7 linked regions of the Homo sapiens genome follow. The protein of the gene in region 2 purifies or fractionates together with the protein of the main gene of each other region. This does not show direct contact. Each region holds a gene or a part of one and is shown on either strand. Other genes may lie near its edges.

Region 1 (4,143 bases), on a different chromosome or scaffold from region 2:
AGATGTGGATTGATAGAAGTCATATAAATGAAAGCTCTTTTGAGGTCTTCAGTAATTTTTTTTCGCTTCCTGTACCATGCATATCAGTAATTTTTAAGAGTATAAAACGTTGCTGAGATCAAAAGTTCAGAACTGCCACTCTAATCTAAACTACTGTCTAGTCTAAACTATTATTCTATACTTCTCATCTCTATATGTTAAGGATTGATCTCCAAGATAAATTGTTTTTTGTTTGTTTTTTAGAGACAGGATCATGCTCTGTTGCCCAGGCTAGAGTGTAGTGGAACAATCATAACTCACTGCAGCCTCAAACTCCTGGGCTTAAGTGATCCACCTGCCTTGGCCTCCTGAGTAGCTGGAATTCCAGATGCAAGGCACCATGCCTGGCTAACTTTTTAAAATTTTTCATAGAGATAGGGTCTTACCATCCTGCCCAGGCTGGCCTCAAGCTCTTCACCTCAAGCAGTCCTCCTGCCTCAGCCTCCCAAAGCACTGGTATTACAAGAGTGAGCCACCACGCCCAGCCCAAAATAATTTTTTTTTAAAGCAAGATGTAGAAAAGTGATTATAATATGTTTCCATTTAGGCAAGAAAAAAAATGGAGAGGACTATACCTGTACTCTCTGTACATAGGATCCACAGAAAACTTCTAATGATGGTTATCCCTGTGGTGGGAAACTGGGGGACAGGGAATGATGAAGCAGGAAAATTTTTACTGTATAAACTTTAGTTCTGTTGGCTCTTTTTCTTCTATCATGTGTATGTTAACTTTTTAAAAACACAGTTTAGCCAGGCACGGTGGCTCACACCTGTAATCCCAGCACTTTGGGAGGCCAAGGTGGGCAGATCACAAGGTCAGGAGTTTGAGACCAGCCTAACCAATATGGTGAAACCCCATCTCTACTAAAAATACCAACATTAGCCAGGGCTGGTGGCGCATCCCTGTAATCTCAGCTACTCGGGAGGCTGAGGCAGGAGAATTGCTTGAACCTGGGAGGCAGAGGTTGCAGTGAGCTGAGATCGCGCCATTGCACTCCAGCCCAGGCAACAAGAGCAAGACTACGTCTCAAAAAAAAAAAAAAAAAAAAGCAAAAAATACAGTTTAAAAAGATAGCCATAGGAAAAAGAGAGAAAAAATTATAAACAAACAGGGTGATTAACTGTTTCTTCTGGCTTTGCTGTCCTGTAGTTCATCTCTCAGGATCTTAGCCTGAACCTTGGTGTAACAATTAGCATACTTGTTCTACTCACTTGCAGGGATATAGGAAGAGTAAATAGTAGATGTAAAAGTACTTTGAAAGGCATTAAGTTCTGGGTGGGAGAAGGACATTGTTAATGAATTTGAATGTTTCATTAACGTGTGCACTAATTTTCTTATAGGTTTGTTTTGGGTCCCACAGATTGGAGGTAGGATCGATGTATTATCTTGCAATTAGTTGTACAAAAGGGACCTTTATAGACATACATGCTTGTGATTTTTTTTAGGATCAAGAAATGCAGAAATTACTATGAAATTCTGGGAGTTTCTCGAGATGCTAGTGACGAAGAGCTTAAGAAAGCTTACAGAAAACTCGCCCTGAAATTTCACCCTGACAAGAACTGTGCTCCTGGAGCAACAGATGCTTTCAAAGGTCTGATCCTGAACCAATGCTCAATGGTGCCCTTGTCATGGTTGGTCATAATAAGTTGCTTTTAGCCTTCCCCATAGTTGTTTTATAAGGCCATAAGGAGGGTTTTTTCCCCCTGCCACACCTCTTAAATAGTGATAATCAGCATAGCTCCCACTTGATTTTACCTAGGCTGGAGTGCAGTGGTGACATCTCAGCTCACTGCAACCTCCACCTCCCGGGCTCAAGTGATCCTCCCACCTCAGCCTCCTGAGTAGCTGGGACTACAGGTGAGCACCACCATGCCCGGCTAATTTTTGTATGTTTTGTGGAGATGGGGTTTTGCCATGTTGCTCTGGCTGATCTCAAACTCCTGAGCTCAAGTAATCTGCCCGCCTAGGCCTTCCAAAGTGCTGATATTACAGGCGTGAGCCACTGTGCCCATCCTCCATGATATTTTAAGAAATATATTCTTCAGGCTGAGCGCAGTGGCTCACACCTGTAATCCTAGCACTTTGGGAGGCTGAGGTGGGAGGATTGCTTGAGCCAGAGGTCAAGGCTGCAGTGAGCTGTGATTGCACCACTGCACTCCAAGTCATTGTTACAGGCAAAGATCTTCAGTGAATGCTAAAACCATTGAGTGCTAGGTAGTTGTCGCCTATGGGGTATTCTTGCCAAAATGTTTGACCTGAATCTAATAATGAGGAAACAATCAATATGAAACATTCTACAAGAATACTGATCTGTTCTTCCAAAAAATTTAACATAATGAAAAACAAAAAAGGTGGGACAGTTTTAGCTTAAAAGAAACTAAATGCTATACTTGATCTTGCATGGATGCATTGGATGATAATGGACTGATGTTAATTTTCTTAGCTGTGATAATGGTGTTGTGATCACATAGGAGAATGTCTTTCTTCTTGGGAGATATATGTTGAGGTATTTAGGGGCAAGGTGACGTAATATCTGTGGCCTATTTTCAAATGGTTCAGCAAAATAAATGTATAATTATTACAATACATATGTACATATGTATATATAGAGTTGTAGGTAACAGAGTGGCAAGGCAAACATTTAACAATTCCCCAGGTAAAAGAATCATGAAGAAATACTCTTTCTGTGTTTCTGACAGTGTTGACTGAATTACAGGTAGGGAGTGCGGGATGCCTTAAAAGATTTCTTTTTTTTGAGGTTTCTATTGATTGGTGCTACGGATTGTATGTTTAAATGAAATTGGGCAAGGTTTGCACGTCTGTACATAGAAAGGAGACATGTTGGTAAACATATGTAACTATTCAGCCTTTGAACCCTCCTTGAGACATTGGAAATACATTTCTTAATTTCAGAAAATATTTGTCTAAAGTAAACTGAAATAAGACTATGATGAAGACTTTGTTTTTAGTCAAGCAGGAAGGTTTCTACTAAGATTGTTTCAGAAGAGAATTCAGGAAATTTTTTGGACTACAAGTTAAAATATCACTACTGATGTGTGAACTGTTTCCAACATAAACTATTGCACTCAAGTGAAATAAGAACACTTTTTTGGCCAGATGCAGGGCTCACACCTATAATCCCAAACTTTTGGAGGCCAAGGTGAGAGGATCACTAGAGGCCAGGAATCTGAGACTAGTCTGGGCAATGCAGCAAGACCCTATCTCTAAAAAAATTTTTTTTAAAGTAAAGAGCACTCTTTGTGTGTGTGTGTGTGTGACAAAGTCTCACTCTGTTGCCCAGCCTGGAAGGCAGTGGCATGATCTCGGCTCACTGCAACCTCCCAAAGTGCTGGGATTATAGGCATGAGCCACTGCACCTGGCCAGAACACATTTTTTATGAATGAGAGTGCTGACCAGTTGGAGAACATTTCCCCAACATGCCTGGGACTTGTGGTGACTGGGAACCCGAACTGAGGGGGGCTTCCTAACTTCTAGGACAGCTGGGATGACTACAGGACTGTTGATTGGGAGTTAACTCACTGCAGCAGAAGTTCTTAATTCCTGTGATTCCAATGTTGTTGTTTCTGGCGATCAGGGAAAACCTGAAGGGCAAGCACTGTGGAGAACTTTCTAGGCCCAAGCATCTCTTCTTGGGCCCCTGCGAAGTTGTCCAGCACGAGTCACCTCTAGGCTCTTTGTCACTGCTGCTGTGATCACTCTCAGCCATAGCAAAGACTGTGTCCTCATGTGCTGGTTCTTGTTGGTTGCAGCAATAGGAAATGCATTTGCAGTCCTGAGCAATCCTGATAAGAGACTTCGCTATGATGAATACGGAGATGAACAGGTGACTTTCACTGCCCCTCGAGCCAGACCTTATAATTATTACAGGGATTTTGAAGCTGACATCACTCCAGAAGAGCTGTTCAACGTCTTCTTTGGAGGACATTTTCCTACAGGTTAGTCTCCCCAAATTATCATTCTTAAACATATTTCTTTATTTATGGCTCTCAGCAAGCTCCTGTTTGAAAATCTGAATAGAGGTACAATGGTATGATGGAAACAGCAAGGATCTAGAATCAGTTGAGCAGGAGTTTGAGGCAAG
Region 2 (4,295 bases):
ATATACACATCTTTTTAAATATTATACCAGCTAAGCGCAGTGGCTCACGCCTGCAATCCCAACACTTTGGGAGGTGGGAGGCTGAGGTAGGAGACTCACTTGAGTCCAGGAGTTTGAGACCAGCCTGGGCATCCAGGGTCAGGTGGTTGGGGTGACTTGAGACCCCATCTCTACAAAAAGTAAAAACAAATTAGCCAAACATGATGGTGTATGCCTGTGGCCCCAGCTACTTGGGAGGCTGAGGTGGGAGGATTCTTGAAGTCTGGTGGTTGAGGCTTCAGTGAGCTGCGATTGTGCCACTGCACTCCAGCCTGGGTGACAGAGCCAGAACCTGTCTCAAAAAAAAAAAAAAAATTATATAATTCATCTATTCAAAACTACTAAATAATTTTTTTTTTTTTTCGAGACAGAGTCTTGCTCTGTCGCCCAGGCTGGAGTACGATGGTGCGATCTGGACTCACTGCAACCTCTGCCTCCTGGGTTCAAGCAATTCTCCTGCCTCAGCCTCCCAAGTAGCTGGGACTACAGGTGCCCACCACCATGCCCAGCTAATTTTTGTATTTTTAATAGAGACAGGGTTTCACCATGTTGGCCAGGCTGGTGATCCATCCACCTCAGCCTCCCAATATTAAATAAATTTTTTAAATCCAAATACTAATATGAGAGGTTTTTGAACTCTCATAGAGTAGGACCCAGAGTGTGTCCTCAGGCTAAGGGAGGACACCACCCCTCATATTGTCTTATGCCCAGTTTCTGCTTCCAAAGAAAGAAAAAGTAAAAATTAAAAGGCAGAAATGAAATCCACAAGCAGACAGCCCGGCGCCACACCCTGGGCCTGGTAGTTAAAGATCGAGCCCTGACCTAATCGGTTATGTAATCTATAGATTACAGACATTTTATAGAAATGCACTTTGAAAATCCCTGTCCTGTTTTGTTCCAATCTAATGATCGGTGCATGCAGCCCCCAGTCACGTACCCCCTGCTTGCTCAATCAATCACGACCCTCTCACATGCACCCCCTTAGAGTTGTGAGCCCTGAAAAGGGACAGGAATTGCTCACTCTGGGAGCTCGGCTCTTGAGACAGGAGTCTTGCCGATGCCCCCCGGCCGAATAAACCCCTTCCTTCTTTAAGTCGGTGTTTGAGGAGTTTTGACTGCAGCTCGTCCTGCTACAAAGCCACCAGGCTATCTCTAGGATCCCTTATGGGGCCCCTCAGGGTCCTCTCTGACAACTCCTTCTTGGGTCCTGGCTGAAGATCTCTGCTGCCCCCAGACTCAGAAGAGCCACTCCAGGACTCAGGGAGTGGCTGGCTTTGGGCCAGCCCAGCCCTCCAGATCCAAGGCGGGTCCCCTATCTCCACAATCAAATGGTGTTCTGCCTCCGGCCCTGTCCGGGGACCCTGCTCACCAGCCACGGGCGGTTTAGGCCAACCTCCCTGCCTCCTCCCCAGTGCAGACGCAGCCTATAAAACCACCCTGTGTGTCCTTGCGGATCCTGGCCCCTCCCTGGACACCCAGGCGACAATGGCAGAACTGCCCACAACAGAGACGCCTGGGGACGCCACTTTGTGCAGCGGGCGCTTCACCATCAGCACACTGCTGAGCAGTGATGAGCCCTCTCCACCAGCTGCCTATGACAGCAGCCACCCCAGCCACCTGACCCACAGCAGCACCTTCTGCATGCGCACCTTTGGCTACAACACGATCGATGTGGTGCCCACATATGAGCACTATGCCAACAGCACCCAGCCTGGTGAGCCCCGGAAGGTCCGGCCCACACTGGCTGACCTGCACTCCTTCCTCAAGGTAAGTGCTGTCTCAGAAGACTGGCCACTTCCCTGCTGTGTGACCTCGACCCAGCTACCTAACCTCTCTGAGCCTCAGTTCTGTCATCTGTGCCATGGGGATGGAGGAGCGTCTTCTTCCTGGGTTGAGAGGCCCCAGTGAAATAGTGGAGCTGCAGAAATCTGGGCACATGTTGGAATGTATATTAGCCAATCACTAGCAACCCAAAGCTAGAGTGGGAGGCCTAGAGAGGTAATGAGCTTCCAGTGAGTAGAAGCATGCAAGCAGGTTGCACACCCCTGAAAGAGACAGGGCAAGAAGGGCCTGGGAAGGTTCACCTCAGAGAGAGGGCTCGCCGGGTTTGCTGCCCGGGAGGCTGGACTGTGAAGAGTGGAGGGCTGGAAGGTGGATTGTCATGACCCCTGTCTGGCCTCACTTTTCCCATATGACAATTGGGCTGAATTGTTCTTTTTTCTTTTCTTTTCTTTTCTTTTCTTTTTTTTTTTTGAGACGGAGTCTGGCTCTGTCGCCCAGGCTGGAGTGCAGTGGTGTGATCTCGGCTCACTGCAACCTCTGCCTCCTGGGTTCAAGTGATTCTCCTGCCTCAGCCTCCCGAGTAGCTGGGATTACAGGAGCGCACCACCACACCCAGCTAATTTTTGTATTTTTAGTAGGGATGGGGTTTTGCCATATTGGCCAGGCTGGTCTTGAACTCCTGACCTCAAAGGATCCACCCACCTTGGCCTCCCAACGTGCTGGAATTACAGGCATGAGCCACCACGCCCAGCCCAGAATTGTTCTTGATTCTGAGGCTAAGACTTACTAAATTCGCAGGCCTTTTCTCCACCCCAGAGCAAACCAAGACATGGCCCTTGGCTCCATACTGAGATGAAGTGCCAGGAAGAAAGCCCCAGAGGAGGGCGTCAGTCACTTGGGGCACAAACTAGGAGACCTCCCAGTGCCCCAGAGGTAGAGGCCTGGTTTCAAGACCCAGCCCTCCAGGGACCAACTATGTGGCCTTGGACAAGCTTTCACCTCTCCAGGGTGATAATAATCCTGTCGCCCATTACAAGGCTAGGCAACTGCCTAATCACTTCTAAGGCCACTGCTCTCCTAGGGGGAGGAGGTGTTATGAGCAGGAGCGCCCAGGACTCCCAGTCTCCCATGGCATCTGATCTTGGATCACTGCAACCTCCACCTCCTGGCTTCAAGAGATCCTCCTATGTCAGCCTCCTGAGTAGCTGGGACCACAGGTGCACACCACCATGCCCAGCTAATTTTTGTATTTCTTAGTAGAGACAGGGTTTTACCTTGTTGCCCAGGCTGGTCTTGAACTCCTAAGCTCAAGCAATCCACCCACCTTGGCCTCCCAAAGTGCTTTTACTACAGGCGTGAGCCACTGCTCCTGGCCTAGGGAGCATTTTAAAAGCCCCTCAAGCAGCTCAACACCCAGTGGGCTGAGGGGTCGGGGGGTGCTCGGTATGGGGCGCAGTGGTGCAGGTCAGTGGGCTGGATGCAGAGACGCCGTCCCTAGCACCCCTACCTGCCTGACTTGTGGTCTCTGGGCTGCCAGCAGGAAGGCAGACACCTGCATGCCCTGGCCTTTGACAGCCGGCCCAGCCACGAGATGACTGATGGGCTGGTGGAGGGCGAGGCAGGCACCAGCAGCGAGAAGAACCCCGAGGAGCCAGTGCGCTTCGGCTGGGTCAAGGGGGTGATGGTGAGTGGGGTGTGGGTGGTGCGTGATGTCCAGAAATGGGGGTGGGGTGGCAGAGCTCCATCCAGGCTCAGCTCTGACTCTCAGGCCCTGGTGGGGCTTCAGTTTCCCCATCTGTACAATGAATTCAATGAGTTAATAGATCAATAGACAATAGATTAAAGCCTGCCGGGGAGTAATTAGAAGAAACTGTGTTTCCCTAAAAAGCCACCAGGGGGCTGCACTAAACACACAAATCCGTAAATGTGTTTTTCTCCTCCATGAAGGGAAGGAAAAGGTTTGCTATAGTGAGGAGCAGGATTAAGTTTCCAGACAGTAGACAATCAAGGACACTTGGCTTTGGAGACATTATGGGACTTTACAGAGGGGATCTTATGGGATGTAGAAGGCTTTAGCCCTGCTCCGGGAGGCAGGAGGCTGGGGTTCTGATCTTAACGCTGCCAACTGGCTGTGCCTCCGTTTCTCCATCTGAACCACGAGCCCTCCCCGACCCCCAGATGCTCTTATTCAGAGCTGGGATCTCCCTCCTGGGCTGTGTTGCCAGAGCCGGGAACGGCCCTGCAACTCAGTGGGGCCAGCGACCACACCAGCCCCTCCCACCTGGAAGCTTCAGCCTCCATCTCGGCCTCTGGCTTTGCTTTAAATTTGGAAGCTGAAGTCACAGCCACCTGAGCTCTGATATCTGCTCTTACATGGGGCGCTGGCTCACCTGGCATTTGCTGAGCTCCCTGTAAATGCCAGGCTCTGGATCAACTGCTGACCACTGGGGCCATGGTCGGGGCTGGCAGACACA
Region 3 (4,143 bases), on a different chromosome or scaffold from region 2:
GAACGTTAGTCCTAAGGTCTTAGAAGCTCCGCCAAATGTTTATATAAACATTAAAAAACGAACACATAAGAACCTGGGTAAAATAGCTTATAAATGTCAGTGATGTGCGTTTAATTAGCATATGAAAGCAAGGCCAAGTAGTATGCATGCTATGTACTTACTTAAATACATTTCTTGAAAATCAAGTATTATCTTTCATGTCCTTGCTCAATATTTCATAATTGAATCCACCACTCATAGAAATGTTTTATATTTTGATATTTTTGCTAATGTATGTCACTATAGATGTAATTGTTGTCATTACATATAATATTACAATTTGTCAGATTCATTTCTTTCTAATCCTAAATTCAAGGTCCCAGAAAATAAATTTTTAAACATGTAATGGCCAGTGGTTAAGTTCATTGTGCAGAGCAGCTCTCTGCACGCGGCAGCCCCCAGCATACTGAAGATGGTCAATATATAACTCTTGTATGAAAGAATGCAGGAATAAATGATAGTTAAACTTCAATTTTTGAACTAAATTTGAATTTGAGTTATTCTCATGATTTTCCAAAAGATATTTTGGCCTATATTATTCCAACTTGGCTTCTAAAAATAGCAGACATATTTCCACCACCATTAAGACTGGTTTATTTCCTTAAGCATAATTTCTTTTTAAAAGCAATGTGAAAGATTTTATTTACTACACCAGAGCTATTACAGGTCACATGGCTTTTTAGTCTGGTTCTCAAACTTAAATATAGTAGAGTCACATTATGTTATGAATAACAGTAGTGCTCCAAGCGTTACATTCTTACGTGTCTGTCTTTTTCTTTTCATCTTCCAGGGCTCTTAACGTGAGCTGTAGCCTGTCAGTGAGGATTTCCAGTTCTTGGGTGAGTTTGTATTCCTCTCTAAATTGTTCTCCCAAAAGAACAAGATCGCGCGTGGCATCATGCAGAGGGATGTCACTTAGATACAGCCCTCTCCTTGTCAAATCGTCCAGGTTCATGACACTGTCATATGGAGAAATGAGGCAAGATCAGTCTCAACTTATATACATGACAATGCAATCCCGATTTCTGTCAAGGAATCTGATCCTGCCACCTCCTACCATTCAAAACATCAGGCTGAAGACAATAGAATTATGGAGAATTGAACGAAGATTGTGAGTTTATTCTCTTAGATATTTAAGCATCTACCAAAAAGCAGTGAACTTGAGATGCATTTTTGCCAGGTTGCACTTTTTGGTGCCATCAGTCTAAATTGAAACGATCATGTAGAAAACATCTCTATGATAAACGTTGAGGTATTTAACACAGGCTGTAATTTATTATTCTCAAATTTTTTCTCATCATAAGGAGAGGAAAAAAATCTATCTTTATTCTCTCTCTCAAGAATAATAATGCTTCTTTTGAGAAACTTTCATTTTGCTTTCTGTATTCTATGAATCTTGTAACTGCTTATTTTTCCCTTTTGGAAACAATGAGTAAAAATTCCCAACCACGTTTATGACCCAGCCTCAGCATGTAATTTATGTATCTAAAACTATGTGTCATTCTTACTTCTGGCTCTCATGTCTTCTTTTTACTTTGACAAATTTTTCTCATTTATTTGAAACATTATTCAATCCTGCTGAATTTTATGCGTCATCATTGTAACTTGTGTCATTTTTCCAACAACATAATAATGTTTATTATTTTAGTGATAATCTGACAAGTAAAAAGTTAACTGCTTTTTAAAAATGTACTCTTTGAGGCTGGGCACAGTGGCTCACATCTGTAATCCTAGGACTTTGGGAGGCGAGGTGGGCAGACCACTTGAGGCCAGGAGTTCAAGATCAGCCTGGCTAACATGGTGAAACGCGTCTCTACCAAAAATACAAAAATGAGCTGGGTGTGGTGGCTAGCGCCTGTAGTCCCAGCTACTCGGGAGGCTGAGGCAGGAGAATTGCTTGAACCCGGGAGCAGGAGGCTGCAGTGAGCTGAGATCATGCCACTGCATTCCAGTCTGGGTGACAGAGCGAGACTCCATCTCAAACAACAACAACAACGACAACAAAACCTAACTGGTTAAAATGGCATAAGGTTATATCTTTGGCTTGAATTTTTTTAATGCAAAGTCATTACTTCTGGCCACTCTGAATAATAATTACTCTAAAAGGAAAAAATTTAGTTATGTCTTTGGAGAATCTGGGATTAATAATTTGAAGAATTTTGAATTAATCCTATCCAAAATTCTTTAAAAGGGGTGACTTTGCAGAATTTTGGATTAATGCAATATATTCTCAGCAGCAATGTTCATAAAGCAAAACAAAAATTAGCATACCTATAAAGAAAATAAAACAATCAAAGATTTTACTAATGAAATACACGGTGTCTTTTAATTTCGTTAAAATGGATATGTAAATCCACTTGCAGAAAAAGACACATCTAGAAAGAAGCCAGATCATCGGCCAAAGGTATACGAGACCTGCCCATGAGCAGAGAAAAAACATGATTGTACGTTCAAAAATGAATGGTCAAAAATGCTCATACTGAGTTACAAAACTTAAATCATAACGGTCTCGTGGTTCTAAAAATGCCCTATATCATTATTTTAATGAACCATTAAGTTTTTTCTAAATTCAAACTAATCATCTTAGAATTATTTTACAAGTAAAACTACTTTTACTTGATCTTTGTTTATGTAGTGTGAGTACAAATCTTCCTACACACCTGAGCATGTCTCATAGGACAATCTGCAATTTTCTCACTGGGTGACCAATGTCTGCATATGGGAATTAACAAATAAACTCCAAATTTTCTGCTTTTATTTCTGAAGAAAACCTTTCTTTCCATAAATAGAAATTGCCCCTAATGAGAAGCTGACATTCTCCTAAGCTCAACCTGTGAAGAGGCAGAAGAAGAAAACACTTACTGATAGCAGATGGGACATCTTTAGATCAATGTAGCTTAATAATTTTTTTAAAAAGCGTTTATGTTTCTTAGTTTTGTTTCTTTTATTTTCCTGATATTTATTTCTCAGGGAAAAGACATCCATATCCTTATATTATCTGATATATTATTCTTATATGTCATAGTTAAATAATATTTAATTAATCTTAAATGTACTTAAAAATTAACGATATATTATTATTATTATTATTATTATTATTTTGAGACAGTGTCTTGCTCTGTTGCCCAGGAGTGCAGTGGCATGATCTCGGCTCACTGCAACCTCTGCCTCCCAGGTTCAAGCGACTCTCCTGCCTCAGCCTCCCTAGTAGCTGCAATTACAGGTGCCCACCACCACTCCTGGCTAATTTTTGTATTTTTAGTAGAGATGGGATTTCACCATGTTTGCCAGGCTGATCTTGAACTCCTGACCTTGTGATCCACCCACCTCGGCCTCCGAAAGTGCTGGGATTACAGGTGTGAACTACTGTGCCAACAATATATTATTCTTATTTGGCCTTATATATTATTGTTATGTAATGTATAATACAATAGTAATAATATAACAGGAGGTTGTTACAAAGTGTATTACATTTTTCAGAAATTTTAAGACCACATTTTTAAGTGAAAAGTGATCATGGTGGAATTCAGATTAAATTTTTAACCAATAGCTCACCAAAACATGCCTTCTTGACTGTGTTACTACATAATGCACCTACACTTTGTTTATACAAAATTATGAATACACAGAATATCATCTCACAATAATCCCCACAGTTATCTTTTCTATTGTTCTGAAGCAAATTTAGACATAATTTTTATATTTCTGAATTCCCATGTATCTCCTAGTAAAATGCTTTCCTAAATTGGAAAACAACAATCTATAGTTTTATTTTTCTCTGACGTTTATTAAAAATCACATTTTACATACATTTTAATTGAATAATATATTTGGAACAGTGTATTTGGATTAGAGTAGGTAAATATTTTTAATTTAAAATAGTTCAAACCCAGAAAGAGACCTTTTAGATTTTTTGCTAACATACTATAGAAAAGATAATTTTTGATGTCAAATATACCAATGTATTTATTATGCCATCCTATTAGCTGCTTTAAAAAATCACTTTTCTACATAATGCCTATTTTGAAGGTCCAAAACTATAGAATTAGCTTAATGCAGATTATTTGTCCCATGGCGTAATGGCATAAACACTCCACAAATGTA
Region 4 (4,143 bases), on a different chromosome or scaffold from region 2:
ACTTTCTGTCCATTTGTAGCTACTGCCCCAGGGACATATCCACTCTTCTTCCTCATCCAGCTTTTGGGTGAAGAGCCAGGCCTTCTTCCAGACAGAATATGTAACTACCCATGTACTAGGCTTTCTAGGACTCAGAAGAGTCCCTTTCCTACTTTCCAGTGTCTGGGAACCTATTTACTCAGAAGATGAGACTTAGAAGGAGAGCATGCTTAGCTAGGGGGTGCCTCAGGTCTCCAGTTTGAACCCTTTGCTAGACAGATGAGGGAGCTGAGTCCAGCACTTGGAAGAGACCTGGCTCAGGTCATGCAGTGGGCCAGGCTGCCCATTTTTTCTGTTGCCCTTTCTACTACCCTACTGAAGCTTTGCCAGGCTTTTTCACCATAGGTGAGCCTCCTTGCCTCTGGACTCTATCTAGCTTCAAAATTTCAACCCAAAACTGTTAGTTGACATAAACTCAGAGAGGTGATCTCATCTCTGCTTATACTGCCAGGTAGATGTCTCTGCAGACAGTAGCTCTATTAAACTAATATGATATTCTTTGGCCCCCAGGGAGGTAAAAAGCAGTATTTTTTACTTCGCTGAATTTTTATTTGTGTCTTCACAATCTGGGGACCTTTCTCAGCCTTCTCTTTGCCTCACTCATATAATTCCAGGGTCTTTAGCCCCTCTGGAGGCTGCCTTTAGTGAGTGGAACAAAGAGAAGGAAAGGGTAGTGGTGCATTGTTTCTTTTGGGAATTACTTTTGGCTATAAGTAGAGAACCTGATTATACTCTGCCTTAAAACACGAGGGATTTTGCTTTACTCATGAAACAAGAAGCCTAGAGGTTAGCAGTTGCTGAGTTGGTCCAGTAACTCATGGACATTGAGGCCACATTCTTTAAGATTCTCTTGGCCTTTTTCTCATGATCGTGAGATGGCTGTTATACCTCCAGCCAACACATTTGTGTTCCAGGTAGCAAGAATCAAAAAGGGGAATGGTATCTATATTAGAAAAGCAAAGGCTGTTTCTGAAATCCCCGTAGACTTCTGCTTAGGTCTCATTGACTTGGTCACGCCTAGCTGCAAGGGAGTCTTGGGAAGCAAGTGTTTAGCTTTCCACTGCTAAGATAGAGGAAGCTGGGGGAAAGGGGATTGGAATAGGTGTTCAGTGAGGCTACCTCAGGTGACTACTTGGAATCAAAGTATCCCACTCTGCGGTTTTTATGATCTACATTTGCCATGCATTTCAGACACACCCCTTGTCCTTTCACAGCCCACTCTCTGAGTCAAGTCTTAATAGTCCCTGCAGGCAGACACTGCAGATGTGTTTCAGGGAGTTGCCACAGGCCGCATGGTGATGCAGAGGTGGTACTGAGCCATACATTTAGGTTTCCAGCCCATGCATTTGGACTCCTCCCCCATCCTCACTGCTTCTCACACAGCAGGGTGAGGCCTGGTGCCACGGAAGTCTCATGAGTCTCTTGTCTCCCAGGCCTAGCATCGGTGGAAGCCTACAGCTACAAGACCAACGAGTGGTTCTTTGTGGCCCCGATGAACACGCGGCGGAGCAGTGTGGGTGTGGGCGTTGTGGAGGGTAAGGAGGCGGCAGTGGCCAGTGGCCAGGCCTACCTGGCCCACGGGCCTTGTCCTGGGTCCAGCATCATGCTTGGTGCTTCCTCTACCGTGTTTTTTTTCCTGAGATCACTCCTCTGGGTTAGGTACTATTATCCTGATTTAGCGGATGAGGAAAGTTGAGACTCAGAGAGGTGGTGGAGCTCCTGGCCCAAGGCTGCTAAATGTTGGAGCTGGGCTGGGGGAGTAGAAGGAGCCTAGAGGGGAAATGCCGGCCTGTGGTTTGGCCCTGTGTCAATAGCTCTGCTAGAAGTTGGGGAAGGGAAGGGAGTAGGGAATCCATATTCAGCATATAACCCAGGAGGATAATGTAGTAGAGTGAGAGTTAAATGTGCTTAATTAATTTTGTCCTCATATTCATATGTTGAACATTAACAGAACTGTGAGTGAGGTAGGCACCTCTTCTTAGGTCTGATGACTCTCTGCAGGGCAGGCTGGTGATTGAGTCCAGTTCTAGTCAGGAAAGCTGTGTAGGGTAAGGTAGGAGGGAGTGGTGAGGTCTAGGGCCTGGTCAGATGGTACACTTTTGTTTGTAAAAAAACCTCTCATTTCTAGTCTCTTGTTTTGTTTGCAAAACCCTTGTGAAGGAGATAGGCAGGCCTCAGATTCTCTCCATCCTCCAGATGTCCCACATTCCAATGACAGTAAATAACACAGCCTGTCCTTGAACCCAGGTCTTCTGACTCCTAAGCCGGTGTTCTTTCCACTGTGCTATGCTCCTTCAAAATGCTGACAAATGCCAGTAGGTAGGAGTTCTGTAAATATGTGTGAATTCAATGTACCAAAGCATAGAATATTACTTGAACTAAAATGTTGTCATTTGCAGGACAACACTGATTCATCAACTTGTAGTAATGTGGGAATTTAGATGGAATATCTGTTCATTCAGACGTGTATGCAGACATTCCATCTCTCATGTACACACTCAGAAATACACATGCAAACACAAATGTGCCCTGGGGTGAGTGTAACATCCAGCGAGTTAGACATTAATAGAAAGATTCTTTTCTCACACTGTATTTCTCAGTCTGCACTGGTATTGTGTAATTTAAGTTTTCATTTAAAGGTGTACTATTCTAACATACTAAATAAGTCATCTATGTGAGGGCAAGGATTTTGTCCTCCTACCAAGGTAAATTGTATCTTGCAATCTCATTCTCTTGGTGGAAGAGAAATTGATTTGTCTGCCAAGTGTAAGTGCTTTGTCTAGCCACCTTCTCATTTCTTCTCTTGTTCCTTAGCCAGGAATATCAAACAATAGAGTAGGGGTTAAAAATAGCAAATCCCTGTTAATAGACTCAAGGAGGAACCTTGAGTGCATATTTTTTCAGCTGATGCAGATGGAATGGTTGATGGGGGTTAGAGGAGGTGCCATAATGGTGGTAATTTAAAATACTCCCCTTGACAAAGGCTTTTGTGAGCATGTTCTGTATGTGGAAGAAGTGCTGTCTTGTAGCATGCCCTGTTGACGTGGAAGACAGGCTGGGAATTTGTTTCTTCTGCCCTTCCTGAATCTGAAGCTCTTTCAGCTGTGGGCACCCTGGGGCAGCAGAGTTCAATTTACAGCTGTGGTGAGAATGTTGAGGGAGGGACTTAAGTGGACTCTGTCTTCTTCACTGTGGCCTTGAAGAGACAGCTCTCCACACTGTCTGGCTTCCTCTCCTCCCTCTCATCATCTCATTACCATGGCTATACAGTTTGAATGACACTGAACAAAAAAATGGAGGAAATCACAATAATTTGCTACTGGCTGCCTCGAAGAATACCTATTTAGGAAAAGACTCTGTGGATTGGAGTGTAGGCAGAAGCTCCTAAGAGAGCAGAGAGTGTGCTATGGATATTTCGCATCTGAACCAGCACATACCATGCAAGTAGCCTGGACCCTAGAAGAGCTGCTTAGTCAGGTTTTTAAAAAATTTTGACTTTGGTGAGTGCAGAACTGAGGACGATGTGTTTCTTTCTTTTAGATGGGTCAATTGAGAGGACCCTGGGGCAGAAAACAAAGCCAGGCTCGATGATGATAGAAGAAAAACATTTTTATATTTGATAATACAGCAGTAGTTCTGGTAGCAGAGTATAGGTTTGAGCCTGAGAATCTTTCTAACTTAAAATAATTGCAGATTTTCAAATACTAGTAGTATTCTTGGTGTCTGTCCATCAAGAAAGCACATGTGACCAAAAAATCTACTGAGTAAGTAATCCTGTTAAATAGATTTGCATTTGGTGATATTTATTTAGTCTACAGCTAGTGTGACTCCTCCCCCTGTTCCCACAGAAGAGACCATCCCATTGCATTTTAAGACTAAATTTTAAACCCAAAATGTTTGAATTTCTGCTTTGGGATAGCTCAAATGCCAAATTTTTCCTCCTGTGTCCAACCTCACTCTCAGCCCTCAGCCCCCAGCCCCAGGCAGAAATGATGCTCTTGGGTAGCAGCTTAATGGTATTTTAATTTAAAAGTAAATGACGGCACCTCAGGGCTCTTGTGCATGGCTCAGAGATCACAGGGTAGTCTGCAGAAAAATTCCAGC
Region 5 (4,143 bases), about 55 Mb from region 2:
GAGAATGGCATGAACCTGGGAGGCGGAGCTTGCAGTGAGCCAAGATCGCGCCATTGCACTCCAGCCTGGCAACACAGCGAGAGTCTGTCTCAAAAAAAAAAAAAAAAGAGAGAAAAAAAGTTCGGATTCCTGAAATCTATAGCTCATTCCCACTGGTGAGATGAACACTGTTGACATTTGGTATGTACTTTGCTGGGTTTCCCTCTCTACACTTACTGTCATAGAGCACAGATGGATGGACATATAGCATAGTTTCATAAAAATGTGATTGGAGGCCGGGTGTGGTGGCTCACCCCTGTAATCCCAGCACTTTGGGAGGCCAAGATGGGTGGATCACCTGAGGTCAGAAGTTTGAGACCAGCCTGGCCAGCATGGTGAAACCCTGTTTCTACTAAAGAAATACAAAAAAAAAAAATTAGCTGGGTGTGGTGGCAGGCGCCTCTAATCCCAGCTACTTGGGAGGCTGAGGCAGGGAGAACTGCTTGAACCCGGAAGGCGGAGGTTGCAGTGAGCTGAGACTGTGCCATTGCACTCCAACCTGGGCGACAGAGCGAGACTCCATCTCAAAAAAAAAAAAAATGGGATCGGGGTGGACATAGTCGCTCATCCCTGTAATCCCAGCACTTTGGGAGGCTGAGGTGGAAGGATGACTTGAGGCCAGGAGTTAGAGACCAGCCTGGGCAACATAGTGCAACCCCATCTCTACAAAATAAATAAAAAATTTAAAAAATTAGCCAGGCGGCACATGCCTGTGGTCCCAGCTACTTGAGAGGCTGAGGCAGAAGAATCACTTGAGCCCAGGAGGCTGCAGTGAGCCATGTTCACACCACCACACTCCAACTTTGGTGAAAAAATGAGACCCTGTCTCAAAAAAAAAAAAAAGAATCATATTGTAAAAAATGCTTACAAGTTGCTTTTCTTAACCTAACAGTACAACTCAGATATCTTAAATACATATATATGTTTGTCTATTTATAAATATAGTTTTAAACTATTATCTAAACATATTGATGAATGTTGTTATATTTATAAATATATTTCTACCTAAGTATTACCTTTTTAAGAATCACTGCCGAGACCAGCTCGGTCGGGGAGACCTTAACCCAGCGGCACTAGAGGAATTAAAGACACACACGCAGAAATATAGAGGTGCGAAGTGGGAAATCAGGGGTCTCACAGCCTTCAGAGCTGAGAGCCCCGAACAGAGATTTACCCACATATTTATTAACAGCAAACCAGTCATTAGCATTGTTTCTATAGATATTCCATTAACTAAAAGTATCCCTTAAGGGAAATGGATGGATGGGCCGAATTACTTGCAGCAGGAACACGCCCTTAAGACACAGATCTCTCAGGCTTTTGTTTGCGGCTTAAGAATGCCTTTAAGCGGTTTTCCGCCCTGGGCGGGCCAGGTGTTCCTTGCCCACAACCTTCCAGCTTGGGTGTTATGGCCATTATGGACGTGTTACATTGCTGCAGAGATTTTATTTATGGCCAGTTTTGGGGCCAGTTTATGGCCAGACTTTGGGGGGCTTGCTCCCAACAAACCACCTTCATTTATAGTGACACACAGTGTTCCATTCTGTGGGCCCATCAACATATACTTAACTGATTCCCTACCGATGGCTAGTTAAGGTCATTTCTTTTTTTTTTTTTTTCTTTGATTCGGAGTCTAGCTCTGTTGCCCAGGCTGGAGTCCAGTGGCGCGATCTCAGCTCACTGCACCCTTCACCTCCCAGGTTCAAGTGATTCTCCTGCCTCAGCCTCCTGAGTAGCTGGGATTACAGGCACCCACCACTACACGCACCTAATTTTTTTTGTATTTTTATTAGAGACGGGGTTTCGCCATGTTGGCCAGGCTGGTCTTGAACTCCTGACCTCAGGTGATCCACCCGCCTCGGCCTCCCAAAGTGCTGGGATGACAGGCGTGAGCCACCACCTCCAGCCGAGGCCATTTCTGTTTTCATTCTTTGCTTCCACAAGTAGTTATCAAGTGTTCACTACTGTAATCCATCAACTGTAAGATGACACTGACCGTTAGAGGTAATGGTTACTTTGTCTATCACTAAGAAAGAAAAATGCCACACTTACACTATGGCATTTTATAGTTTAAGATGCATTCTGATTTTTTTTTTTTTTTTGAGACGGAGTCTCGCTCTGTCGCCCAGGCTGGAGTACAGTGGTGCCATCTCGGCTCACTGCAAGCTCCGCCTCCCGGGTTCACGCCATTCTCCTGCCTCAGCCTCCCGAGTAGCTGGGACTATAGGCGCCCACCACCACGCCCGGCTAATTTTTTTGTATTTTTAGTAGAGACGGGGTTTCACCGTGTTAGCCAGGATGGTCTCGATCTCCTGACCTCATGATCCGCCCGCCTCGGCCTCCCAAAGTGCTGGGATTACAGGCTCGAGCCACCGTGCCCAGCCAAGATGCATTCTGATTTTAAAATCACTTTACATATGAGAGCTGTGTCCCTGAGAACCAGTGGAGTGCAGTGTGTGCCAGATGCCGTTCCAGGTGCTGGAAGTGCACTGGGCGTGGAGCTGCGGGTAAACGAGTCCCCGCCCCGCAGCTGCCCTGGCACTGATCCTGCCAAGGCACTGCTTCCACCTTCCCTGCTGCTCTGCCCGCACCACTGTGTCGACTGCCTCCATGTAGGCACCAGGCTGTCCTCGAGGGCACTGTGTGAGGTGTGTGCCTGTGTTCTTACCCCATGCACTGAGTTATTTCTGTGATGGCCACAGAGAAGATGGGAAGAGGCTTCCTCATAGTAGAGGGAGGCGTGGCGCCTTCGGCTTCTCTTGCTTACAGTCATGAACTCATGTGGGGCTTGAGCAAAGAAACAGCCGGGTGGCATGGGGACACAGCTTTCTTTCCATTTTGGCTCCAACATCCCTCTGGACTGGAGCGTTAGATAACTTCTGTCTATGAAATTTCATAGCTGACAAACTCCCTTTGCCCTGTATCGGATCTGAGTTCATCTTCACAAGCCTGTATGTAACCATTACACCCACTTACCAGGTTAGGAAACTGAGGCTTAGAGCCTTCACAGGGATGAAACAAGTTGGGACTCTCTGGGGCTCTCCCTGAGTAGCGCCTTCTCCACAGCAGTGCCTCGAAGTCCTGGGACAGAGGCTGCATGGCTGTGTGCATCTAGTGTGTCTGCTGGTTGTTGCTTTGCTCGTCACAAACAAAACAAACTGACAGCTGTCTGCTTCCCTCCCAGCCCTCCTATTGGTGTGGGAAGCCAAGGGCGGTTGCAGGGAAGGAGGAAGAAGACAGTGACCCCGAGAAAGCACTCAGAAACGAGTACTTTGAAGCCGAGCCAGAGGACCTGGTGGCGGGGATCAAGATCAAGCACCTGTCCAAGGTGCCGCCTCCTGTGGGGACAGGGAGGGCCGGGGCTGCCAGGACCATGGGAAGACTTACCAGCACGGCAGTGAGACCTCATAGCCCGTCAGGCGCTCCCTCTGAGCCTTGCTCCCTCCTGCCCTGAAGGAGGGCAGGAACCCTCCGCTGCCCTCTAACCGGTTCCCCAGGGCACAGACCACATCTCCAGCTTCTCAGGAAATGCCAGACTCAGCCGTCCAGCAGTGCCTCGGCCTCATGGGCCTCCCAGGGTTGCAGAGACACTGAGGGTGTCTGGGACGTGTTGGGGCTGGGGGAGACCGGAGGGGAGCAGCCAGGAGCAGCATCTGCCCGAAACGTCCCTCCCCTCTGCACACTGATGGTGACGCTAGGCTTGGTTCCTTCTGAGACGGTCGGGCAGGGGAGCAGGAGAGGCCTTGGCCGTGGGCCTCGGGGCTGTGGGTAGCCCAGGGCAGCCTCTGCCTTTCCTGCAGGTGTTCAGGGTGGGAAATAAGGACAGGGCGGCCGTCAGAGACCTGAACCTCAACCTGTACGAGGGACAGATCACCGTCCTGCTGGGCCACAACGGTGCCGGGAAGACCACCACCCTCTCCATGCTCACAGGTGAGGGCCAGGCGCCTCACGCCCCTGCCACCAGCAGGCCCCCCTTTAACACCATCTCAGCGCCAGCCCCGCCTCACTCCCTCAATGGGGCTTTCGGGCCTTCCCCAACCACAGCGGCAGGAGATGCACCTCAGCCCTGCAGGCCCAGGGGCACAAGCAGGGACTGCCCTCCTC
Region 6 (4,143 bases), on a different chromosome or scaffold from region 2:
GATTATAGTGAGTTATTCAAAACTTTTAACTTGGGTGGTATCTTGAAATAATATGTAAAGTTTTCACCTCTGTGAATTACAGATTACCTAATCAGCTTTTCTTTTTCTTTTTTTTTTTGGCATTTGTAGGAAACTGAACAACAATGAATTGGAGACCATTCCAAATCTGGGACCAGTCTCGGCAAATATTACACTTCTCTCCTTGTAAGTGAATATCAGCAGAATTCCTCATGTATGTTTGCAGGAACCTTGAGTGGGAGTTCCATAGGGACTAGCATAGAGATCTTAGAAGAAAAAAATGGAATATTTTTTTCAGGGCATAGTAAAGATACGCGCTTTAAATTGGTTAACTTGTTTTCTAGCCTCTAACTCTCTCACTGCTAAATTTCATGTATTCTTATAACAACACACTTTACACTTTGCTGTTGTTGCCGAACTGGTCTTCGAGATTCAAAGAGGCCAGCTTTACACCATAGAAATGTGTATTTTATCGTATTCTGTAGACTAGGACTTTAATTTTAGTATCGCTCAATGGTTGGCATGGGGATCTGTGGGTTATGTATTACGTAGTTCCTAGTGGAGAATGATCAGAGTTGCTTTGTGAGGAGAAACCGGAGTTGAGAATAAGCCATTGGAGTATCCTGTTTTAAGTGTGGTACCTGCAGTGTAAATCAGAGTTCAGAGACATCAACTCAAAAAAAGTAAATATGTGACTGAAGACAGAAATAACTTTGCAGGTTGTTTTGCAAATATGAGTTTTCAAATACAATTAAGGTTGTACCAAGTTTTCTGTATTTTTAGTGTAGGTAACGTTGTATATACATGCACTGACGTAGGTTTTGGAATAATTCTGACTTTCAGCATTTAAAGGTAGCATTTAGAATGCCTGTGGTTTAATTTCTAAAATCTAATTAGCTTACCACCTTAATCTTAAATAATTTAAAAATATATTTAAGCTACTGATGTTAAAAAATGTTTTTCTTTAAGCAACTTAAGGAAAAAACCACCATTGTTAGTTGCTTCTGAGAGAGGTGTTGGGAGGGTTGAAATTATACAGTAAATTTCAGGAAAGCTGTTCAATTAATAGAGTGATCACTACCCAATTGCTTACATCTGGTGATTTATAGAGGTTTGTTTTTACTGAGGGCCCAGGTCAGCTAAGTCACGGGTGCAGCCGCTGTGTCTGCTTTCCTCTGTTTGAATAAGAGCTAAGTGACATTTGATACTGATGTGGTTTTTCCAAAGATCAGAAACAGAAAGGAGTGAAAGAAAAAGCAGTCGGTATTTGACAAATAAACACTGTATTTAAAAAACATTTTTATGCTAGCATAAATACCTTTTTTCTTTGTCTTTTACAATTGCTTAAAATTTTAGAATCTAAATGGAGTGCTGGTTTTGGTATCGTAAACATCTGCAGCTATTCTTGTTTGACCAAGGTGGCCTTTTTAAATTCCACTTTGCTCTTGCTGTCCTCGCACTGCATATTGGCAGATTCTGTCAGTATGTTTAAGAGAGCTTGAGGGTCATGGCATACTTCATGGCTGAGAGGATCTGCAGTGCAGTTTTGTAATCTGGGCAGCATGGGGAAAGCAGTCTACTCTTTGGCATGGTATAGCGTTGAGAGCATTAAGAACTTGTGAGGAAGTTAGAAAATTATAAGTAACCTAGTGTTTTATACTTTTTTTTTTTTGAGACAGAGTCTTGCTCTGTTGCCCAGGCTGGAGTGCAGTGGCACGATCTTGGCTCACTGTAAGCTCCGCCTCCTGGGTTCACACCATTCTCCTGCCTCAGCCTCCCAAGTAGCTGGGACTACAGGCGTCCGCCACTACGCCCGGCTAGTTTTTTGTATTTTTAGTAGAGAGGGGGTTTCACCGTGTTAGCCAGGATGGTCTCGATCTCCTGACCTCGTAATCCTCCCGCCTCGGCCTCCCAAAGTGTTGGGATTGCAGGTGTGAGCCACTGCGCCCAGCCCCTAGTGTTTTACACTTTAACGTTATAACTTATAATTAGAAAGCTACAATGATCTCTCAAAAGTTAGAAATTTGTGCTCCTTTAAAATTTGTCCTCTTCTCCATATTGTTTTTGTGTTTCACTTTAGCAAGTGCTGGGTGTGAAATCACCCTGAATAATTTCACTTTCTTTCTCCTTAATGTGTTACAATACCTCTGGCCAGTGATTGCTTTGTTCGTCTCACATAATGATACATCCAATGTGTTACCTAGATTACATAGACTCTGCGAAGAGTAATTTATATCATGGGCCTGATAATTCAATGTGGAGAGTAAAAACTTCTTTTTATACCTATGAAATATCTTGAAAAATTTACCTCTCTGGTTGTTTTCATCTACGAATGTTTTGTTTCCTCCTGCAGGCTTGATTGGATATTGTAATATACAATTATTGTTTCTCAAGCACTTTTAATTTGTGTTGTGTAGAGTAAAACATTTTCTTTTATATAAAAACACTTGAAAATAAAGCTAAAAATGAGTTCTTAAATGCTTTTCTGAGATTAAAAAAAATCTGTTAAGTTATATAACATGACACAGATTGAAAACTTGCTGTAGCGTCACAATTAAATCTCATATCTTTCAAAGTAGTTTTTAGAATGATTTGACTTTCATATTAAGAGTTTTTTGTGGTTGTTTTTTGTTTGTATCTTTTACATTTTGCAGAGGAAAACATTTTTATGAGTTATTTGCACAGGTTAAATAGTTTGAAAGCTTGTGTGTAAAGAAAATGAGTAATTAGTTGAAGTCTTAACCATAGGATTTAATATTACTGCTCCATACTCTTTCTACTCTGTGCCATGAAGACCCCTCCCAGCTGGAGGGGCTGCATGCAGAGAAGACTGTCCTGGTGAGACTTTTGTCTTCTCTTAGCTATAGGAGCCAGGAGCTGATAATTAGATCAAAGGGTACCGCATGTCCAGAGACAAATTCAGTTAGGGACCTATTCTCATAATATCAGGGAATCTGGGATGATAGGAATCTGCGATAATCTTCCCACTAACAAAGCTCATCTCTAACCTTTTTAGCATGCACAAGGCCTGAATAGACATGCTTTCCTTTGAATCCCACACAGAACTAGCTCAGAAGTCAACCAGTGTGCTAGGTGCAAGGCATGATTTGTATGTTTTTTAAATTTTTCTCTCACAATATCCTAGCTATTGCAGGATGACATATTTTAAAGAAGTGGAATAGTCTTTGGAATGAACATATCTTACAGTAAAACTCTATTGACCTGGCTTACATGAGGGAGTTGATTTTTCTGAATGTATGAACTCTGGCTTTGCGTGGTGTGGAATGACCTGCTCGAGCATTGGACATGATTGAAATCTGTGCCTTGGGTTAGGGAAGTTTGAATCTGTGAGTTCTACAGCATTGTAGTTGAACAAAAGAGCCTTGTTGGTTATTAAACGGAGCTAGTTGGGTCTTAGTCTTGATGCTAATGGTTTATATAGTGTTACCCAGCATGCAGATGCTTGCCTGGTGTCCTAGAGTTGAAGAATGTTAGGTCAGTGACTGTCAAAGAGGCACCTAGGGTACTTGTTTTTTTTGTTTTTGTTTTTGTTTTTTTTTGAGACGGAGTCTCGCAGTGTCACCCAGGCTGGAGTGCAGTGGCTCAATCTCAGCTCACTGCAAGCTCCGCTGCCCGGGTTCATGCCGTTCTCTTGCCTCAGCCTCCCCAGCAGCTGGGACTACAGGCGCATGCTGCCACGCCCAGTTAATTTTTGTATTTTTAGTAGAGATGGGGTTTCACCGTGTTAGCCAGGACGGTCTCGATCTCCTGACCTCATGATCCGCCCGCCTCAGCCTCCCAGAATGCTGGGATTAAAGGCGTGAGCCACCGCGCCCTGCCAGGGTGCTGGTTAGATTATCAGACACTATCCCTAGAGATTCTAAATTAGTAGATTTGGGTGGGGCCCAGGAGTATCCATTTTAACATATGCAATATTCTTATCAGATATTGCATAAATATTTCTAGAATTACTGATAAAGGTCATATCATAATCAACTAAGCCTTTTCTCTTTATTTCTTATCTCAAAAGTAAAGCATTTCTTAGTCCATCATTGTCTTTATAGCCTGTCATCTTCCCAGAGGTGACATTGTCATCATTCCAGAGAGGTTATTATATATATTGAT
Region 7 (4,143 bases), on a different chromosome or scaffold from region 2:
ATCCATACTTGGTTCTGCTTTAACAGATTGATTACTTTGATAGGATTTGATAAGCTACACTTTTGAAAATTAGTAGATTATTTTTAAGAGTTAGCAAGTAAGTAGATTTAGAAATTAATCAAGGGAGCAGTGAGATTTACAAGGGAAGACAAACCCATGTTAATCAAAGTTAACACAGAATGCACGATGGGAATTTTAGTGCGCCCCTTAGTCTTTATTATAACAGGATAAATAACTCCATTTAACAGATAAATAACGCCTTTTGCGTAAGCAAAGGTCATATCCTGCCTTGTTTCAAATTTCTGTTTTTAAAAAAGCATTTCTGAGTAGAATTTGAGTTCTTAAAAATTGTCTGAGTTGATGTTCCAGCTTGTTTTTTTTGTTGTTGCTGTTTTTGTTTTGTTTTGTTTTGTTTTTGAGATGGAGTCTCACTCTGTCACCCAGGCTGGAGTGCAGTGGCGCGATCTCGGCTCACTGCAAGCTTCGCCTCCTGGGTTCACACCATTCTCCTGCCTCAGCCTCCCGAGTAGCTGGGACTACAGGCTCCCGCCACCACGCCTGGCTCATTTTTTGTATTTTTAATAGAGACGGGGTTTCACCGTGTTAGCCAGGATGGTCTCATCTCCTGACCTCGTGATCCGCCTCGGCCTCCCAAAGTGCTGGGATTGTAGGCGTGAGCCACCGCACCCAGCCCCAGTTTGTTTTAATAAGCAATAACATTATTCGAATTTGGTGTATGATACTTTGAGCGATGCAGATATGTATTGAATTTCAGGAATTGACAATCTTGATAAGGTTTTAAAGGTTTAGGGAAGGTCTGAGCCTCTGTTTACTTTCTAGAACTACGCTTGTCGTGTGTGTGTCGACTTTTTCTATCGGCTGTTTATAATCACTTCGCCTATAAGCACTTTTTATTACATTATTTTCTATTCATGATCCCTGCTTTCAACTGGTATGGTTGTACATTTACATGTTTGAGCATCTTGGACTTTATAAGATCTCATATTTCCCATATTTCTAAACTACTTTTTCTTAAGTATCTCAGTGGTAGTGACAATTGAAATGTGCAAAGCTAGCTAGCTACTGATTATTAATTACTCTGTCATCTGAGAAACTTTAAAAATATTATGTTTAAAAATAGTATCATCAAAATCCTTTTATCAAGATCTTGATTTGGTAAAAGGTGAAAATAATAAAAGGGCACAGCACAATAGAGACAGGATGCATTTACCCTCTCCTGCTCCGCGGTCACGCTCCCGCCTTGATCCTCAAGAGAGTGGCAAATCTTGTGGCTGCATATGCATGCTTCTGCTTCTCTGCAGGATGCAGGGTGCAGACTTGTCCAGCAGGCACAGGAGGAAAGCTCAGCACCAAAATACCTTTATGAATCAGTTATGTTCAAATATGTTAAACATCTGAGGGGTGGAGAGAAAAAAAGGATGCCCGAGGAAGAATGACTAAACTTAACATGACCACAAATAATCCTCTCCGGTAGTTCAGTAGGTAACTTTATTTTGAACAAAATTTTATGGCAGATGAGTTGAAAGGAGAAGAAATTTTCTGAAATTGTCATCAGAAGTCAAAGAGTTTTGCTTTTATTTTAACCCAGGCCAAGAAGGCGCAGTACCTGCACTGCTTCATGAAACAAAAAACAAAACGTGTTATCAACCCAACTAAATGCTTAAGATTTTAAGACTCACCTAGTCCTTCCCCAGGTCAGCCTGACACCTGGCCTGGCACCACTAATCATGGCACAGGTTCAGAACCAAGGTCAAGCATTCTGAACTGGGGATAGGGAAAAGGGTGGATTTTCCCTGAAGCTCGTGTAGCCAGTTTCGGGGTCTCTCAATTTGAGGGGCCCCTTCCAAGACCCTGTACCTAATTTTGTATTCATTATTTTTTTCTTAAAGAGAAGGCTTCAGGACCCACAAAATCTGGGTCCACTCCTGGGTGAAGGTATCTGTGAACCTCCTGAAGACAAGAGTGTGAGCGAGGCTGTGTGGATATGTAAATGTGCTTCCATATTTTTCTGGAAGGGTCTGTGTAGTCTTCTCAAAGCCATCTATGACTTACAAAGGTTAAAGAACTCAGGCCTCGGAGAAATTAATCAACCTCTTAATTCTGGTCTTATAACACCACACTTATAAAGTGATGGTTTAATTGCTAGAGGCAACAATTTGTGACTCAAGTAGAATAGCTTCCTGAATGTATCACAGGACACATTGATCACCAGAGACATAGATGAGAATGTTCTTGATGGTTGCTCATCTCATTGGAATACACACTCTCATATTATTCACTCGATCAGTCATTCATTCATTCATTCCTAAACACTTACTGAGTACCTGCTCTGTGACTGCAGCCTGCTAGGTTCCAAGATTTCAGAGATGAATTAGGCAGACTCGCTGCTTTTGAGGAACTCACATAGTTCCTATCAATCAATTCAGCTGAAGGACTCTGCATTCTTTCTCCAGGTTCCCACATATATGTGAGTGCTGTCCTTGAGATCTTGAGGCTATTTTAAATAGAAATGGAAGCTCTTCAGCATAAACCTCACTCCAAAATATTACGCAAAAAGCCACCCTCATAAGAGAGCTGTCTCCTGGGGATGGGGACAGGTCTTCGTGCACCACTGAGCTCCAGCTCTTGCCTCCCCCTGCCATGGGAAGGATGGTCCCATTCTGTCCAGCTGTGTGCCTCCTTACGAAGGACTCAGAGTGCAGGGAGACCAGCAGGATATCGGCCCGGATACCTGAGGAGTGCAGCAGTAAATAATGCTTCCACTGTCATTATGGTTGAGAGACTTTTCCTTGTGGCTAACAGCTGTGTTAATTCTGCTGTTAGCCTTCTACAGACAGAGCAAGAATTCTTCCCACACAATCACATATAAATAGGAGCCTGTGGAAACTGGGCTGTAGAAGTTGTTTTCATTTCCCCATTCCTATTCTTTGTGTCTTGCATTACCCAATCCTTTGAATTCAAATCCTATTGATTCTACATCAAAAGTCTGTTGTTCCCTCTGCCGTCATCCTGATAGAGGTCCTCATTATCTCCCATTTCATCTGTTGCTACAACTTACCACTGGATTTTCTACCCCATTCTCCTGCCTCCCTTCAGTCCACCCCACACATTCCTGTTCCTGTTACCTTCTGCAAAGCACCATTCCAGTGTCTCTCCTGTGCATGCTGAGATGCAGCTTCCCAAACAGAAGCCAAAGAGGTACCAGGAGGTTGCTAGAGCGCTTGGAAGGGAAGACTGAGCAAAGTACCATGGTTGTTCAAAGATACTTTGTGCTTCTGTGGATTTCCTGTCCTGTCCTGCACCGCCTCTGGGCTGCCCCTCCGCCCTAGCATTTTTCCTTCCATCTAGCATTTCTCATCTGCTCCTTCCACACCCCTCCTTCCATCTCTCAAAATGTTATTCAGGTTTCAACAGGGGAGTCCCATGTTATTGGGGGAGGCACCGATTCTGAAGCAGGTACACGAGGTGAAAATATCATCAATTGTGCTTCGAAACTAGAGCCACCCTGACAATAGCCAGGTGCTCCTCTCTCCGCTTCCCTGGACACCAGCTAAGAAGCCGGTGAACAGAAACCACTGAGAAAAGCTGCACAGTCAGGTCCCCAGCTTCTCAGCTCTGCCCAAGCAGGGTTTCCCAACCTGTTCTCTATCTGGCATGAAGAGAAAATGATGATAGTATTTGTATGGCACACAAGGTACTTTGAGGGGACTGAGTGTGGGGTTATGTGGGGTGGGTCACTCTTGGCGCAGCCCTCCTGTGGCAGCAGACCAGCTGGGAATCTTTGTCCTAGGGATGTGTTTGCTGAATCATGGCTTCCATGGTTGTTGGTTGGTTTGTTTGTTTTTGAGACAGGGTCTCACTCTGTTGCCCAGGCTGGAGTGCAGCAGCGCAATCTTGGCTCACTGTAGCCTTCACCTTCCAGGTTCCAGCAATTCTCCTGCCTCAGCCTCCAGAGTAGCTGGGACTACCGGCACCTGCCACCACACCCAGCTAATTTTTATATTTTTAGTGGAGACGGGGTTTCACCATGTTGGCCAGGCTGGTCTCAAACCTCTGACCTCAAGTGATCAGCCCGCCTTGGCCTCCCAAAGTGCTGGGATTACAGGCGTGAGCCACCACACC

The links.
Region 1: the proteins of SLC12A3 (region 2) and DNAJC18 purify together in Homo sapiens (affinity purification with mass spectrometry; one large-scale study listed by BioGRID and IntAct). This does not show direct contact.
Region 3: the proteins of SLC12A3 (region 2) and GUCY1B1 purify together in Homo sapiens (affinity purification with mass spectrometry; one large-scale study listed by BioGRID and IntAct). This does not show direct contact.
Region 4: the proteins of SLC12A3 (region 2) and KLHL3 purify together in Homo sapiens (affinity purification with western blotting, with the first as the bait; one study listed by BioGRID). This does not show direct contact.
Region 5: the proteins of SLC12A3 (region 2) and ABCA3 purify together in Homo sapiens (affinity purification with mass spectrometry; one large-scale study listed by BioGRID and IntAct). This does not show direct contact.
Region 6: the proteins of SLC12A3 (region 2) and LRIG3 purify together in Homo sapiens (affinity purification with mass spectrometry; one large-scale study listed by BioGRID and IntAct). This does not show direct contact.
Region 7: the proteins of SLC12A3 (region 2) and CDKAL1 purify together in Homo sapiens (affinity purification with mass spectrometry; one large-scale study listed by BioGRID and IntAct). This does not show direct contact.

What each region holds. Positions count from the first base shown.
Region 1 is NC_000005.10:139,426,026-139,430,168, reverse strand, and holds part of DNAJC18 (dnaJ homolog subfamily C member 18), read left to right. Parts: intron 1-1,485; coding exon 1,486-1,631; intron 1,632-3,811; coding exon 3,812-3,997; intron 3,998-4,143.
Region 2 is NC_000016.10:56,863,712-56,868,006, forward strand, and holds the start of SLC12A3 (solute carrier family 12 member 3), read left to right. Parts: upstream 1-1,495; 5' UTR 1,496-1,524; coding exon 1,525-1,806; intron 1,807-3,358; coding exon 3,359-3,505; intron 3,506-4,295. UniProt on the Homo sapiens protein: Electroneutral sodium and chloride ion cotransporter, which acts as a key mediator of sodium and chloride reabsorption in kidney distal convoluted tubules.
Region 3 is NC_000004.12:155,796,732-155,800,874, reverse strand, and holds part of GUCY1B1 (guanylate cyclase soluble subunit beta-1), read right to left. Parts: intron 999-4,143; coding exon 801-998; intron 1-800. UniProt on the Homo sapiens protein: Mediates responses to nitric oxide (NO) by catalyzing the biosynthesis of the signaling molecule cGMP.
Region 4 is NC_000005.10:137,634,725-137,638,867, reverse strand, and holds part of KLHL3 (kelch-like protein 3), read left to right. Parts: intron 1-1,472; coding exon 1,473-1,574; intron 1,575-4,143. UniProt on the Homo sapiens protein: Substrate-specific adapter of a BCR (BTB-CUL3-RBX1) E3 ubiquitin ligase complex that acts as a regulator of ion transport in the distal nephron.
Region 5 is NC_000016.10:2,299,229-2,303,371, reverse strand, and holds part of ABCA3 (phospholipid-transporting ATPase ABCA3), read left to right. Parts: intron 1-3,223; coding exon 3,224-3,367; intron 3,368-3,839; coding exon 3,840-3,969; intron 3,970-4,143. UniProt on the Homo sapiens protein: Catalyzes the ATP-dependent transport of phospholipids such as phosphatidylcholine and phosphoglycerol from the cytoplasm into the lumen side of lamellar bodies, in turn participates in the lamellar bodies biogenesis and homeostasis of pulmonary surfactant.
Region 6 is NC_000012.12:58,910,043-58,914,185, reverse strand, and holds part of LRIG3 (leucine-rich repeats and immunoglobulin-like domains protein 3 isoform 2 precursor), read left to right. Parts: intron 1-129; coding exon 130-204; intron 205-4,143. UniProt on the Homo sapiens protein: May play a role in craniofacial and inner ear morphogenesis during embryonic development. May act within the otic vesicle epithelium to control formation of the lateral semicircular canal in the inner ear, possibly by restricting the expression of NTN1.
Region 7 is NC_000006.12:21,226,314-21,230,456, forward strand, and holds part of CDKAL1 (threonylcarbamoyladenosine tRNA methylthiotransferase), read left to right. Parts: intron 1-1,490; exon of another isoform or gene 1,491-2,515; intron 2,516-4,143. UniProt on the Homo sapiens protein: Catalyzes the methylthiolation of N6-threonylcarbamoyladenosine (t(6)A), leading to the formation of 2-methylthio-N6-threonylcarbamoyladenosine (ms(2)t(6)A) at position 37 in tRNAs that read codons beginning with adenine.